Linked DNA regions of Homo sapiens: regions 1, 2 and 4 are each linked to region 3. The links come from fine-mapping of genetic effects on gene expression. A gene starts in region 3. Each other region holds a variant in brackets. All regions are shown on one strand. Distances are from middle to middle.

Region 1 (4,191 bases), 110 kb before region 3:
TAACTAAATCGATAGGAAGCTGAGGGAAGATCATTCCATTATGGACTTTCTTGTTTGGGTGCAAGACACTATCCACAGCATTGAAATCTATAATCTCATAAAAGATTCTTATAAACATATACCATATTTCTCCTATAAGAAAAACTGAGAACTGTACCATGAAGGCAAAATTTGTTTGCCTACTCTCAGAATTCCTTGGAATGGCAATGTACCAGGAGGGTGAGTGAACTGTTGGTGAAAATTCCGGGTTTGACATGGCCCAGTCTGATCACATCAAAAACCTAAAGCCTCAATGATTAAATGCCAAACTTCTTCCCTGCATCTGAGAACTGTATTATGATTATGTATATTACACATACATTATAAATAAAATTTATATAGACCTACAGTTTCTTCCAAACAATTGAGTGATGTTCTCAGTTTGGGGGTGGAAGCAGGAAGAGGTGAAAAAATCTTATTGTTGCTTTTACTCTCAAGTTCTTAAAACGCTAGTCAAACACTATTATCCAACAAGACTTTTTTTTTTCATTCTGTTAACTCTTAAATATGCATTCGAAGGCAAAAATGGAGGTTTCTATACTGTACAATATTAAATATCTACAATGTCATGGTTCCTTATTTTTAGGAGTGTGTTTAATAAAGAGTTGGCTATTAGAGATGGTTGTCACAAAACATGGACTCTTAAAAATTACTGATAAATTACTTTTCAGTTCTCTGATTATATCCAACAGATACACATTCTTGTCATAAAATATACATTCTCTAGTAAGTTATTTTCATCCACAGCATATATAAATATGCAAACACAGGTGGTAAAAATCACTTTACTACCAAAGTACAAAACAGCAACTGCTGAAAAACAAAAATTAAGATGTTGCACGTGTTAAGAAAAGAGTGACTCAGTGTTCCACTGCAAAGTGAAACCAAATGATTTATTTGTGCTAAATGAATGGAAATAATGTATTCAGAATATACTTCTTTGTACACTGCACTTGCTTATACTGGGTGAAATGAACAGCCATCAATGCTAATGTGCTACTTTCCTTTAGACCTTATTTTCTTTTCTGCCAAGCAATACAATATTTTCTGGCCATTATGCCAAGATAATGCGATAATGTCCATTTCAAATAGTATTTTCTAATGGTATTTTGCACCTTTAAAATATTTGTTCAAACTCTATTTTAAGAGAACACAAATGAAGTACGAAAGGGGGAAGCCGCATTGTTTTTGTTACAATCACACTGCCTTCTGCAGCAGAAATCAAATAACACATTCTAATTAGCCATTGAAACCACCGGTGAGTAGGACAACATTTATCGACTCATGTTAGAGGGGGCCAGGTTAAGTAGATTAACATTAAGGATAAAAAAGAGAATCACATCTTAATATACGATAATTATCCATCCCATTTATGTGGAGAAGGTACAGCCACATGATTCATTACTTTGGGCCATCTGTTTTACGAGAGACATGGATGTCAATAACACAATGAAAATAACCTGTAAAAAATGTATCTGTAGAAAGTTCTGTTAAACAGAAAATATGTCTTGGGCACTGATTCATCTAACTTTCTGTTCTACACTGAAAGCCAGATTTTCAAAGGTCTGAATTGTAGTGCTGAATTATTGGTATGTTTGGTAAACACTATTATAATGAGAGGAGGGTAACAACAGCTCAGTAATTTTCTGCAGATTCATGGAAAAAAATATAAAAAAGATATCCCTTTTTCTTTTACAAACCTAAAAGCCAGGAGAATGAAGCTCTGGGCCAAGCAAAAATTGCACACTGCTGCTGAAATACCAAATACCAAACAGCGAAGGTTCCAGCCAGGGAATGGACGTACATGAAGATTCAAGTAAAACACTGATGGAAAAAGTCGTCTGGTTAGTGTTGTAGACCCACAACACTGGCTGCATTTCTGACAAACATTTACAACACAATGGATAGTGAAGCCTAGATAACCTCAGTGCAAATAAGTCATATCCAAATATGCCAGAGAAGGAAGCCTTTGGCGTTGAGTAGACGGCTCCATTGGATGAGTCCCAACTTGAAATTCAGACTAAGCTCATGCATTAAGGCTGGGAGGAGGGGTGCGCCGAATGTTGCGAAGGAGTAGGCTGCGAGGTGGCTGCTGAGGGGACCGTGGGCTGCATGGGTGGC[G/A]GAGGTGGAGGCGGAGGTGGCTGGACTGGGGTCTGTGTGTTGGGAGATGGAGGCGGCGTGGGCCGTTTGAATTTGTCAGGACTGTTGCTTCTCCGTGGTGAAGGCCTCTGCAGAGGGGACAGGAACAGCAAGTCAGTCTAGGTACAGGTGGATCTCATTCTACCTAACACAGCCTGACTTGGCACTGGGGCTAATCAAACACTAACCAACAAAGACAAGAAACCAGGGATTTCTTTCTTCATCCCTACTGGTTTCTGAACTAGTAATAAAATTTAAATAAGGCAGTGTTTACACTTCCACCTATGAAAAAGCTACATAAAATTACTGCACAACTTGTGTTGAACAAACTGCTGGACTTGGGTCCTTCAACGAGAGCTGTAAAATATCCCCTTAAATCTTTCTTTCCGTGTGTGTCACCAATTCCCTCTATTGCTTATCTCCAATAAGTTGTCCACATCCTGAAAGATACAGCTCAACAGAAATGTTTCTATGTTTGAGGCCGGGTGCAGTGGCTCACACCTGTAATCCTAGCACTTTAGGAGGTAGAGGTGGGTGGATAACCTGAGGCCAGGAGTTCGAGACCAGCCTGGCCAACAGGGCAAAACCCCGTCTCTATTAAAAATACAAAAAGCAGCCAGGTGTGGTGCCGTGTGCCTGTAATACCAGCTACTCGGGAGGCTGAGGCAAGAGAATCCCTTGAGCTCCGGAGGCGGATGTTGCAGTGAGCAGACATCATGCTGCTGAACTCCAGCCTGGATGACAGAGTGAGGAAAAAAAAAAAAAAAGTTCCTACTTTTACATAAAGTCCATCAAACTGGCCAAACAGCTTCAGAAATACCTTAAGTGCATTCTTAGAATAGGGTTCTTCTTTAAAATATTATAATTTATTCTTTGAAATATTGGTATTTCTGTTATTGGAAATACCCTTAATAATACTCTCACTCTACTAGCTACATTTCTAATGGCTCTATTAGTCAACTATATTGCCGACTCTAAAGAAAAAACTCCCTTGGGTAGAGTTGGAACCAGATGCACTTAAGCTTCCTTGTAATTCGAGGAGAGAAAATTCTGAGTAACATTACAAACAAGGCTAACTTCAGGAAGAATACTGAAGGTCAGTGAACTGTGAAGGTGCAGACAATAAATATCTTTAGACATTATGGCAACCAACAATAATGCAAGGAGCTGGCCAGAGTTCAATCAAAGCACTGGCCAGAGTTCAAATTATATTTCACAAAGGGTAATTTTTCATAGGAAGTGAAGTTAAAGTTTTGTCTCCTGGGAAGGATTTTAGTTTCAATACCAGAATTTGGTATCAAACTGTTTAAGTCTCTACAGTTTCAAGGTGAACGGATGGAGGAGGCAGGAAGAAGGGCAAATGTCTAAGGGCACCGATCCTGTTCTCCAGAACACCAGTCGGTACCACTTTCAGGAGTAAAGTGCTGCTTCCTACCCCACGGACACTTACTGTGATACCATGGGATGTTCCCATGTGCTGCACGTGAAGACCCGGGGAATTGTAATAAGACATTCCAGCTCTAGTCAGTGAAGTTGGTGGCGTGAAACCAACCGTGTGACTTGCATATGATAGACCTAAAATATAACAACAAATTAAGTATCATTTTAAGCTCAACTATCTGGTGTCTTCAACTATCTAGGAGGTTTTAAATCGCAGTAGTTCTCTATCACCCACAAAAATACAAACAGATGAAAAGAATGATGGGCTCACTAAATGGTGTGGATAACAAGGGAAATAAATGTTAATTCCTAGGATAGAACAGAGAGCCCAGAAATAAACTCACACGTATATGGTCAACTGATCTTCAAAAAGGGCACCAAGAATACACAACGGGGAAAGAGAACAGTCTCTTCAACAGATGGTGTTGGGAAAACTGGATATTCACATGCAGAGGAGTGACACTGGACCTTATCTCTTACACTATATACAAAAGTCAACTCAAAATGGATTAAAGACTTAACTATAAGACCTTAAACTATAAAACTCTTAGAAGGAAAATAGGGGAAAAGCTC
Region 2 (4,211 bases), 24 kb after region 3:
AATAGATTTTAGACCCAAATGAAAAGGAATAAAACTTTCTTTCTTTTTTTTTTTTTTTTTTGAGGCGGAGTCTCACTCTGTTGCCCAGGCTGGAGTGCAGTGGTGCAGTCTTGGCTCACCGCAAGCTCTGCCTCCCGGGTTCAAGTGATTCTCCTGCCTCAGCCTCCCAAGTGGCTGGGATTACAGGTGCCTGCCACCATGCCAGGCTAATTTTGTATTTTTAGTAGAGATGGGTTTTCATCACGTTGGCCAGGCTGGTCTCAAACTCCTGACCTTGTGATCCGCCCACCTCAGCCTCCCAAAGTACTGGGATTACAGGTGTGAGCCACCACACCCAGCCAAAACTTTCTTTTAAGGATTCTCCTAAAAGAAAATATCTTCATAAAATTGTATTAAGCATTAAGGCCAGGTGCAGTGGCTCCCGCCTGTAATTCCAGCACTTTGGGAGGCCAAGGTGGGCAGATCACCTGAGGTCAGGAGTTCGAGACCAGCCTGGCCGACATGGTGAAACCCTGTCTCTACTAAAAATACATAAAATTGGCTGGGCATAGTGGTGGGTGCCTGTAATCCCAGCTATTTGGGAGGCTGAGGCAGGAGAATTGCTTGAACCCAGGAGATAGAGGTTGCAGTGAGCCAAGATGGTGCCATTGCACTCTAGCCTGGGCAATAAGAGTGGAACTCCACCTCAAAAAAAAAAATTTGTATTAAGATTGGTTTCTTAGACATGATAACAAAAGCACAAGTAAAACAAAAATAGATAAACTAGAATTCATTAGAATTTAAATACTTTTGCATTTCAAAGAACACCATCGAGAAAATGTAAAATAATTGCATAATGAGAGAAAATATTTGCAATTTATATAGCTAACAATGGAATGTATCTAGAATATCTAAAGGACTCTTATTACTTAACAATAAAAGAAAATTTCTCAATTTAAAAAATGAGCAAAGAAAAAAGAATAAAAGATTTACCTAGGCATCTTTCTAAAAGAAGACATACAAATAGCTAACAACACATGAAAAAATGCTCAATATCATTAGTCAGTAGGGAATTAAAAATCAAAACCATAAGATACTACTTCATAACACTGCAAACAAACAAAAACAGACATTATCAAGTGTTGGTTAGGAGGTGGATAAATTGGAATCTTCATACATTGATAGTTGGGTTATAAATTGGCAAACACTGGAAAACAGGTTGGCTGTCTCTCAAAATGTTAAACCTAGGGTTACTATAGTACCCAGTAATTCCATTTCTAGGTATTTAACAGAGAGAATTGAAAACATATATCCATACAAAAACTTGGAAACAAACGTTCATAGTAGCATTTTCAGAATAGTCAAAAAGTAGAAGCAACCTAAATGTCAATGTACTGATGAATGGATAAATAAAATGCTGTATATCCATACAATGGATATAGCCACTACAAGAAATTAAGTGCTGGTATATACTACGACATGAATGAACCTTGGAAACATTATGCTAAAAGAAAGAAGACATAAAATACACACATTGTATGATTCCATTTATATGAAATGTTCAGTTAGGGAGATCACAGGGGTAGAAAGCAGACTAATAGTTTTCAGGGACTTGGGAAAGGGAGGAATGAGAGACAAATACTAGTAGATATTGTTCAAAG[TCACA/T]CACACACACACACACACACACACACACACACACAAAGGTAGGCTTCAGAGTTGTATTTGTTTTTATATGCATGTTCTCATATGATGAACAAAGCAGGGTATGTTAAGCCTGAGTGATTATTTTATGTATGTTTGTCACTCTATCTTTTCCTTCCTTCTTTCTTTCCTTTCTTCTTGCCTTCATTTTTCTCTTTCTTCTTTTCTTTTAATGTGAACTTTTCACTATAGATATTTTAATACAATAGAGATGACAATGGACTTCCTATTTTTTTGATAAATTTTATTTATTTATTTATTTATTTATTTATTTTTTTCTTTTTGAGACGGAGTCTCGCTGTCGCCCAAGCTGGAGTGCAGTGGCGCTATCTCGGCTCACTGCAGGCTCCACCCCCCGGGGTTCACGCCATTCTCCTGCCTCAGCCTCCCGAGTAGGTGGGACTACAGACGCCCGCCATTACGCCCGGCTAACTTTTTGTATTTTTTTTTAGTAGAGACGGGGTTTCACTTTGTTAGCCAGGATGGTCTCGATCTCCTGACCTCGTGATCCGCCCGCCTCGGCCTCCCAAAGTGCTGGGATTACAGGCGTGAGCCACCGCGTCCGGCCAAATTTTATTTATTTTTATTAGGCATTTTATTCCTTTTTTTTTTTTTTTTTTTTTTTAGATGGAGTCTCACTCTGTCGCCCAGGCTGGAGTGCAGTGGCGCAATCTCAGCTCACTGCAACCTCCACCTCCCAGGTTCAAGCAATCCTCCTGCCTCAGCCTCCTGTGTAGCTGGGATTGCAGGCATGTACAACCACACCCAGCTAATTTTTGTATTTTTAATAGAGACGAGGTTTCACTGTGTTGGCCAGGCTGGTCTCGAACTCCTGACCTTAGGTGATTCTCCCACCTCAGCTTCCCAAAGTGCTGGGATTACAGGTGTGAGCCACTGTGCCCAGTCAGCAAAAATTTTTAACTTTTATTTTGGTTTCTGGGGGTACACAGGCAGGTTTGTTAAATAAGTAAATTATGTGTTGTGGGGTTTGGTGTACAGTTTATTTCATCACCCATGTAATGAGCATAGTACCCAATAGGTAGTATTTCGATCCTCACTGTCCACCCTCAAGTAGGCCCTAGTGTCTGTTGTTCCATTTTTTGTGTTTATGCATACTCAGTGTTTAGCTCCCACTTATAAATGAGAACACGTGGTATTTGGTTTTCTGTTCCTGTGTTAGTTTACTTAGGATAATGGCCTCTGGCTCCATCCATGTTGCTGCAAATGACATGACCTTGTCTTTTTTATGGCTGCATAGTATTCCATGGTATACCACATTTTCTTTATCCAGTGTACTGTTGATGGGCATTTAGCTTTATTCCACGTCTTCACTATTGTGAATGGTACTGCAGTGACCATATGTGTGCATGTGTCTTTATGATAGAACAATCTATATTCCTTTGGGTATATACCCAATAATGGGATTGCTGGGTTGAATGGTAATCTGTTTTAAGTTTTTTGAGGTATTACCAAACTGCTATTCACAGTGGCTGAACTAATTTACACTGTCACCAGCAATGTATAAGCCTTCCCTTTTCTTTGCAGCCTCGCCAATATCTGTTATTTTTTACCTTTTAGTAATAGCTATTTTGACTGGTGTGAGATGGTATCTTATTGTGGTTTAGATTTGCGTTTCTCTAATGATTAGTGATGTTGAGCATTTTTTCATATGCTTATTGGCTGTATGTTAAGTTTTCTTTCTTTTTTTTTTTTTTTTTTTTTTTTTGAGACGGAGTCTCGCTCTGTCACCCAGGCTGGAGTGCAGTGGCAGCGATCTCGGCTCACTTCACGCTCCGCCTCCAGGGTTCACGCCATTCTCCTGCCTCAGACTCCCGAGTAGCTAGGACTACAGGCACCCGCCACCACACCCGGCTAACTTTTTTTTTGTATTTTTAGTAGAGACAGGGTTTCACCGTGTTAGCCAGGATGGTCTCAATCTCCTGATCTTGTGATCTGCCCGCCTCGGCCTCCCAAAGTGCTGGGATTACAGGCGTGAGCCACCGCGCCCGGCCCGGCTGCACGTTATGTTTTCTTTTGAAAAATGTTTGTTCATTTGACTTCCTATTTTTTAGACCGTACAGTGGATGATAAAATATACCCATCATTTACCTTTGACGATTATCATCAACAGATGGCCAATTTTGTGTGTGTGTGTGTGTGAGATGGAATCTTGCCCTGTTGCCCAGGCTGGAGTGCAGTGGTGCATCTTGGCTCACTGCAACCTCCGCCTCCTGGGTTCAAGTGATTGTTCTGTCTCAGTCTCCCGAGTAGCTGGGACTACAGGCGCGTGCCATCACTCCCAGCTAATTTTTTTTTTGTATTTTTAGTAGAGACGGGGTTTCACCGTGTTAGCCAGGATGGTCGCGATCTTCTGACCTCGTGATCTGCCCGCGTTGGCCTCCCAAAGTGCTGGGATTACAGGCGTGAGCCACTGTGCCCGGCCAGATGGCCAATTTTAAAAACTCAGTATCTCCGTTGATCTCTGTGTTAGTTTCAGAACTCTGAGAGACAAACGTGAAGATAGGATAAGA
Region 3 (4,000 bases):
ATTAACACCACACGACATTTCACAAAGTATATTCGGTTGGATGTCAGTGTAGTTAAGGGTAAGTGCTAAGAAAGCAAGCCACCACCTTATACGCTCTTCTAGCCAAGTACTCAGAAGGCCTCTGATCTTAAACACCGGGAATGAACACATTTGTTCCTGCAAAGCCAACATGTTTAAGCACAATTTACAAACCTAGTTATAATACGGTCTAAGTGTCAAACAGATAACCCTTTCATAGTCTCTGCATCCCTCATTCCTCCCTCCCAAACAAAACCAGCCTGAATTGCCCACTGCATGCAAAAGGCTATTTTGCTTCATGCAAGTCTTACTACTTTCCATGGCTCACAGTCTCCAAGAGACTAACCCTCTCATTTACTAACTCAAACCTTAAACTGCCTCCAACAACTTCCCTCTCTTCTTAACCCCCACTCAGCAAAGACATCTCTGTCAGCGAAGAAAGCTGCATAGGAGGCTTGGAAGTGGCTGCCTCTGCAAATTCCCCGCCCCCCACCTTCCTACCAAAAGGGCACTTCAAGAACTTTACCATCTCACATGAAAGTTGCTCCAATTCCATTCTCCAAAATTGGATTTGAGCATGAAAAGTTTCTTTTTACAATCAACTGCTATTTAGGCTACTGATCACACTTAACTTGCAACTTGCTTTCTACACAAATTAAGAATGCCATCTAGTTCTCATGTATGAGCCAGCACTGGGGGTGTACACACGCGTGCGCACACATATACACAGCCTCCTCCACCGAAGGCATTTCCTGGCACAAGGGGCATCCTAAACTTGCTCCATTTCCAAGGTGTGACCCTCTATCCCCAAATTCATCCCTTTTTCTTCATTTCAAAGTTCAGCCTAATCCGCTATTTTGCAGCAGCTATGGCCATTTATCCCCCTTGATTTCTTGACATCATCTTCTCTGCTTCTGGCTGGGGAACTTTTGATTTGAATACAGTTGTCTGTGTGGGGATCCTTCATGTTAATGATGTGGTGAGCTGGCAGGGATGATAGGTGAGAGTACACAGTGTACTTTTTCTAGTTACGTTTCGCCTCATCACTGCTATAGGGGCCTTTCTAAACGCCTGCCACACCAGGAGAGAGACCTACAGACCCAAGCTTACCCGTTTCTGGGCAGCCTCCAGGGGACAGGTAGAAACAGAACAGATGGCCTGTTCTCCAGTATCTAGACTCAGAAGCAAGATACTTCTAACCACTCCACGAATGAAGCAAACACACGTACCTCTGGCTCAGCCAGGGAGTCACAGTCACTACCCTTCCCCTGGTTTCGGCCCCAGCCCTGTCCAGGCGTGGATGCTGCACTCTCCTCGCTGTAAACCGTCCACCCTCCCAACCCAAAGCAAAGAGCTTCCAACAGAGGTGGGAGCATTAGCGCCGTACCCGCCCTTCCCTCTCGATCCCGGCCAGAAAACTCCACTTCCCGGATTCCCGGCCACTCTCTCCCGCCCCCTCCCCGGGCGATCCAGCTAGCGCAGTCCAGATGCCAGCTTAGTGCCCAGTCCAGCTGCGAACCCCCACACTCCGAGCCAGGACCCAGTAAGAGATCCCAGCTTCCTCCCTCTTCCAGGACTGGGGTTCCCCAGATTCTGGACGCACCCCTCAAACATGCTAGGGCTGAAAAAAGTCCTACCCCGCCCCCCAGCCACGCCGCCAGCCTCCAGCCCAGCCCCGGAGGGGCCTCCTCTCCAGAGGCTAAAAGGGACCATGAATGGTTGCCACAGTAGCCTTCCCCCGCACCGCGCAAGGGTCCTCAGACCCCCGAGGAGGACAGACCCGCGTGGCCCCGAAGGGATACCTCCCTCTCCTCCCGGAAGCCAGCAGGTCCCCGCAGGGAGTGTGCTCTCAGAGGGTCCCCGGGAATCTGGGGAAGACTTGGGGGGTGGCTGGATTCGGGTGCAGCCCCTCCCGGGGCGGGCGGAGGTCGGCGCTGCGGCGCGTCCCCGGGGGGCACTCACGATGGTCACGCTGGCTTTGCGCAGGTCGCGGTTCTCCTCCTGCAGTGCCTTGCACTTCAGTTTGTAGGTCTCCAGCTCTATCTTCAGCACCTTGTTCTCTTGCTGCAGCGAGGCCAGGCGGTTGGTGAGCTCCTCCAGGCGGAACGGCGAGATGACAATGCCCCCCGACTTCCCACCGCCGCCGCCTCCCCCGCCGCCACCGCCGCCGCCCGAGGTCGACGAGCAGGACGACTGCATGGCGGCCGAGCTGCTGCTGTTGCCCCCCGCCCCGTCCGTGTCGCTCTCGCTGGCGCTGTCCGCCATGGCCGCGGCGGGCTGGGGAAAGGAGGAGGAGCAGCAGGGAGGCGGCGGCGACGAAGGCCGGGCTGCGAATGAGTGGGCGCCGGGCGAGCACAGGGGAGCGCCGAGCTGAGCGCCTGGCACCAGGGCGCAGACTCGGAGCGGCGGCGAGAGAAAGAGAGGGCGCTTCCCGCTGCCAAGGGACCTCCTCTGCCAGAGAACAGAGACCCCGCCCGGGCTTGGGCAGTATTGCACTGGGGCTCGCTCCAGCCGGGCTGGGCGCGCTCCCTAGGCCGCCCAGCAAAGCTGGCTGAAAGCTCCGGGACCCGCCCGCCGCCGTCTGGTGACCACGGGCGGGCTGGGAACGCGCAGGCACTGCGGGTGCGGGAAAGCCAAGGACTGCCCCCGCACCACCAGCTCGCCAGCCACACGTGTTCCAAGGGAGGGCCTCCGAGCCCCCTGATCTAAGCCCACGGCCGCCCAGCCTCTTCCGGGCTCGCGCCCGCCCCGAGAAAAAGGAAACCTGATGCCCCACCAGCCTCGCAGGTGCCGGGGACACGTGGAAAGGTCAGCCGGGCTCCGGCACCCATCCTCTACCGTGTTGTGGCCCCATCTTCCGCCGACTGTGTGTGCGCGTGTCTCCCTCTATCTGTTTCACACATACACGCAGTTTTATATTCTCAAAAGCAAGGTGTTTTTGACTAGGAAGGCTTGGATAAACCTAAGAGAACAAAGTTCCTCTACAAGAGGCCGAGGAGGATGAAACAACAGCAGCCACAGGTTAACCTTGTTAAGTAAGAATTTGCAGGAGAGACACACATCTCCTTTAATAACCTCATAAACCACACTGCGCTCAATTGTTTAAACAAGGTGCAACTGTTTTTTTCTTTTTCTCTTTGCATTTTGCAAACATTTCCAGCACATGTCTCGTAGTAGGATTAAGACAGTAACATTTACCTAATGAAGAAAAAAAAAAAGGAAGGCGAAACACTTTTAGTAGAAGATTGAAACACCTCTTTAAGTGCCAATTTTCCAAAGTAACTGCGGACATAACATTATGCTATACAAATAGTAATGATTGAGTGGGAGTGCAACATCACCCGTCTTTGCTATCCTCTTGCTCACTCCTAGAAAACTTTAGCATGTAAAAATAAAACAGTAATTACTGTAATGCGGTCTAATTCATGGTTCTAGCTTTGCAGTTTAAGAAATTAAAAATCAAAAACTTTTATTCCCCCTTCCTCTTCCCAAAGAAAGGCTTGCAGGAAATTGGCCCAGCAGGTGAGATGATTCTAAACACTTTGCCCTGTTGACACAAAACAGCTTTCACTTATGTATAAAAATTGGAAAGTGAAACTGACCAGACTAGTTTTATTACCCACGCTTAGTTAACATTACAACAAACACATGGTAATAGAAAATAGAAAAAAAAGTGTAATTTTTTTTTCTGTTGGGTTGAACTTTCTGAAAGATTTCTAAAGTGTTAGGAAGAAAGAAGAATGATTCTTATTCCCACTCCCTCATTATCTTTAAACCTAAATTTGATCTCATGATTAAACGGTGATTCAATGGCTCTTGGAAACTGGCACCTCAGAATAAACTCGAAAACACCAAGTGTTCCAAATGACATCATCTTTCACCAAGATGGCTGCTTTTAGCAAACAGCTTAAATGCCAACAGCAACTAAACCCCAGTTTCTCCCAGGTATTTTTTAGCTTAGTGCTGGAGGGCTTCTGAACTC
Region 4 (4,225 bases), 34 kb before region 3:
GGATGGTACGTGAGTGACCCCCAGCATTAACTTTCTTCATCCTCTTTTTGAAAAGAGGACTCTCCTACAATCTAGAGGACCACCCAGCTAGATTACATATCCCAGACTCCTGGACAGGTAGGTGGGGCTATGGGGCTAATTTCTGACAAACAGGAGATGGATGGAAGTGGTATGCAACTTTGGAGTCATAGCTTTTAAAAAGAAGCAGTTATCCATGCTGCTTCCCACTTTTCACAGGCTGGAATCGAACTAGAAGTTATAAGGCAGGTCCCACCACAATGGCAAGGCTAACATCCCGCAAGATGGTACAGCTATGAAATAGGAAGACCCCAGTGAACAACCTCATGGAGGAGTCAACCACCAGCCCGGGACTATTAAATGAGAGCACCATGAACTGAGCAGCTGTATTTGGGGGTCTCCCCATCAGCAGTTTAGCCTCTGCCATACACAATTCCTGAAATGAAAACTCATCAGTATGAGAGGAGAGTCAGTCAGATCTATGTTTAGAAATGAAAAGCTCGCCTGAGATACAGTAAATTGGAGAGGCAAAATGCTAAAGACTATGCACATTATGATCCCATGAGTGAAGTTTTATTTAACAAGAATATATAAATAAAATGCTTTCATGTATTATACATGAGGAGAGTTTATATTATATAAACATGTATAAGTATTATGTATATAATTGTAAATATTTTAAAAATTAATAGAACTGTGTCTAAGAAATGTTAACAGTGCCTCTGGAGTTGTTAAAGAGGCTAATCTGTCACACCACATTCGCAGAGCTAAGAACACCGCCTTGTATATACGAAGCACTCAAGTACGTAAAAATAAACATTCACCTTGTGTTTACATGTGTATACACGTACACACAAATCTCGGAGGGACTGCTTTGTAGGCAATGGATTCCCAAAGCTCAACATCAAGATTTCACTGGCATCACCTAATACTCATTAAAAAAAAAAAAAAAAAAAAAAAAAGTTGATGCACTACTGATGCCCAGACCCTTGCCCTGACAAACTGGGTCAGCTCTGAGGGATGGGGCCCCAAGGTTCCATTGAACAGTTTGGTTGGAGAGCCTGGAGCAGATAAAAAGATACAGCGCTAGCTAATCAGGAGACCTTAGCCCTCGTCCTGGTTTTGCTGTTAACTCTTAATTAACCTTGGCAAGCTACTTTCTTTCTTCAGCCTGCCTACATTTCCCCATCTGTAAAATGGGAGATAATATGAAGTCCTTTATGGCACAGCACACATCCTGCCTTGTGAGGGGGCAGGGGATCCACGCTGCTTTGAACAAAAATTCCCACTAAGTATTCCCCAAATTCAGTTGCTAATTGGCAAAAGAAAAAAAAATAGCACTCTGATTAAATATAAGGATACAAGTTCTCCTCCAAAAGTAAAAGGCTCCTCAAACAAGGGACTTAAAGGGAGGAAGAAGGGAAATGGATTACAGGAAACTAGAAAATTCTCAAGTATAAAGAAAATAAGGAGCCAATTATTAAAAGCACTGCTAATGTTATCCATCCCTTGTAACCTCTGTGCTTACACATTTTACAAAATTGGTTCACATTACACGCACACTGTATCCTCACTCCACTTACTAGATTTTAACTATCTCTATGATTAAATGTTCCTCCAATAATTTTTGATGTTGTAAACAACCTATCTCACTGATGTGCCAAAACCATCTCTCTACTGCCTGACATTCCTTCCAG[T/C]TGTTTCCAATGCTTCTGCCCTTTGAAGAATCGTTACAATGAACATGCTTGAACAGTCTGAGGCTGTGCTAGCTGGATGTTTCTTCCAGCAGATTCCCCAACCTTGGGTATCAGTATTCAGTTAAGATACGGAGACTTAAGCAAACAGCTGCCTACATTTGCAGCTACAAAGCTGTGTCTGTTTCCTGTGCTGTTGCAGGTAAGAAAATGGTAGCCAATTTACATCCTGTTCCTTGTCTCCTTGCTCGTGCGAAGGTGTCCAGGGGTTGGGCTTCTGAACTGACTTTCTATGGAAGCCAATTCCTCCGAAGAAGTAAAAGACACACTGCTTTAACTATAAGGCTGGCTTTGTGAGTTGGAGGTTATTGATGTATGAACATTTTCTAGTTTTCAGTGAGTAAAGAGGGACGGAAGGTTTAACCTCTAGCAAGGGGTTAACTTTCAGCATCAAGTTTCTATTCTAGTTGGACACAAGGATTTCATGGTCAAACTACATCTCACCACCTTGATACCTGGGGCTGCATCCAGTCAAAGAGGATAACTTTCCAGATGGGGGGGTGGGGGAAGGTAACAACATTAGAAAGTGCATAAGCAGTAACTCTTCCCTGCTAGAACTTCTAAGAAATATTGCTAAGCTGTCATTAGGAATTAAGGTGAAAATCTAGCACAGGTCCTCGATCCTTTAAACACAATTCCAAAACCCAGAAGACTGAAAACCGAAAGCTACATTTGGCAAGCAACCAAACAACTGCGTTCACTTGGTGGCAAGCCTGATCTGAATTGACATGAGGCTCTTTGCAGCTTTATCATCAAACTTAGCATGCCTGTTCACATGTTTTGCTGAGGTGGTTTGATGTGTCTGCTGTTTCAATCCTCTGGCGGTGCTACAGTATACGTGGTAGGTGCTCAGTACCTTTCCATAGCTCCACTCCCTTTTATGGGATGGACTGTGTCCTTGAAAAAGATATGTTCAATTCCTAACCCCACATACTTGTGAATGTGACCTTATTTGGAAATAGGTTCTTTGCAGATGTAATCAAGCTAAGATGAGATCACTGGAGTGGGCCCCAATCCAATACGACTGCTGTCCTTATAAGAAGGGAAAATACAGACAGAAACATACAAGGAGAAGATGACCACATGACTTCAGAGGCAGGAACTGAAGTGCTGCAGCTGCAAGCCAAGGAACGCCTGGAGATACTAGAAACTAGAAGAATCACAGAAGGATCTTCCCCGGCCAGAGGTTTCCAAGGGAGAACAACCCTTACCAACACCTTGATTTTGGACTTCTGGCCCCTCCAGAACTGTGAGAAAATTAATTTCTATTGTTTTATGCCACTCAGTCTGTGAAACATTGTTACAACAGCCTTGGGAAACAAACAGACCCAACTCCCACCACCAAAAAAACCTAAATTCTAAAACATATCTGGCCTCATGGGATAAGAGACTGTGGAGCTATATTTTAATATTTAGTATTTTAATATGCCACTTTATTCTGAATATTTCAAAGTAAATGCAGGTTTTTCAATCTTGGTTTCTGACAATGGTATTTACCTAAATTTGTGATGATTTTGTAATAGACTGCTAATTTTTAAAAAAAAAGAAGGACAGAGAACACATATGTAGCTTTTAAAATTATCAAAACAGAATAGTTAAAACAATCCAAGTACATCTTAAATCTTCTATATGAGAATGAATGTTCCCCATTCCTATGATGTTGAGGCAGTAGCACATTTAGACACAATACAGCTGTCAAAATCCCAAATGCTGCAAAATCAACCATGGTCAGTGAAGATCTATGACATCTAATACTGAAAGAAAACGAAGTGAAAGAATGGTGAAGCATGTCCGAAGCGTAGACATTCATTTCCTTACACATTTACCTAGCAAACACACACACACACACACACACACACGCACACACCCCTACATAGATTCCATATGCCAGAAGGCACAGGGAATATAATAAAACTATAATGAGACAGGACCTTACACTCTAACAGGAATGTAACAAAGGCACAAATTGATCTTCTCCCAGTTCTAAAATGTTTTCTTTGGCACTAAACTTGCCTTTTGTTCTCCTATCCAACCAAGACTAGAGTTTCTGTAATTTTATCATTTTTATCAAACATATTAAAATTATCACATTGAAATCCTCCGTTTACAGAAAGGTGGTTCATGGATTAACCAAAGATATACAGAGATCAATATACAAAGATATTCACAGAAATGCCATCCATACCAATGCAAACAACCAATTCACTAACAATACTCCTATTCTGCCAGTGAAGGCAGAATGCTCCCTCCTGCAAACTTTGCCTCAAGCTGTCTACATTTGAATCCCCAGAACCTATGAAAATGTTACTTACATGCAAAGGGGAATTAAGGGAACAGATAGAATTAAGGTTGCCCATCAACTGACTTTAAAATAAGGAAATTATCTTGGGTTCTCTGAATGGGACCCGTATAATCACAGAGGTCCTTTAAAATGGAAAATGGAGGCAGAGAAG

Alleles and levels. Alleles are on the strand shown, and positions count from the first base shown. SD is a standard deviation of normalised expression in the study named. Not every link is listed here.
As copies of TCACA replace T in region 2, the expression in monocytes after LPS of the gene that starts at base 2,415 in region 3 goes down (moderate effect, 0.67 SD a copy in Fairfax 2014).

What was found. PIP is the estimated chance that this variant, and not a neighbour inherited with it, causes the effect.
Region 1: its variant is fine-mapped to the expression of CCDC6 in testis (GTEx, PIP above 0.99).
Region 2: its variant is fine-mapped to the expression of CCDC6 in monocytes after LPS (Fairfax 2014, PIP 0.95).
Region 4: its variant is fine-mapped to the expression of CCDC6 in whole blood (TOPMed, PIP above 0.99).

Annotation. Positions count from the first base shown.
Region 1 is chr10:59,790,845-59,795,035 of GRCh38, forward strand. It overlaps CCDC6 (coiled-coil domain containing 6), which reads right to left. Exons shown (of 9, transcript NM_005436.5): 8 at 3,629-3,753; 9 at 1-2,267. The coding sequence ends at 2,073. Among named protein-coding and RNA genes, the nearest start is that of MRLN, 39 kb to the left of the region's middle. The variant G/A (reference allele first, on the strand shown) is at 2,161.
Region 2 is chr10:59,928,402-59,932,612 of GRCh38, forward strand. No RefSeq gene overlaps it. Among named protein-coding and RNA genes, the nearest start is that of CCDC6, 24 kb to the left of the region's middle. The variant TCACA/T (reference allele first, on the strand shown) is at 1,641.
Region 3 is chr10:59,904,142-59,908,141 of GRCh38, forward strand. It overlaps CCDC6 (coiled-coil domain containing 6), which reads right to left and starts at 2,415. Exons shown (of 9, transcript NM_005436.5): 1 at 1,981-2,415. The coding sequence starts at 2,283. RefSeq lists an enhancer at 1,128-1,357 and silencers at 1,878-2,157, 2,188-2,527, 2,710-3,004.
Region 4 is chr10:59,870,514-59,874,738 of GRCh38, forward strand. The region is part of intron 1 of CCDC6 (coiled-coil domain containing 6); the gene reads right to left. Among named protein-coding and RNA genes, the nearest start is that of CCDC6, 34 kb to the right of the region's middle. RefSeq lists an enhancer at 2,478-2,772. The variant T/C (reference allele first, on the strand shown) is at 1,716.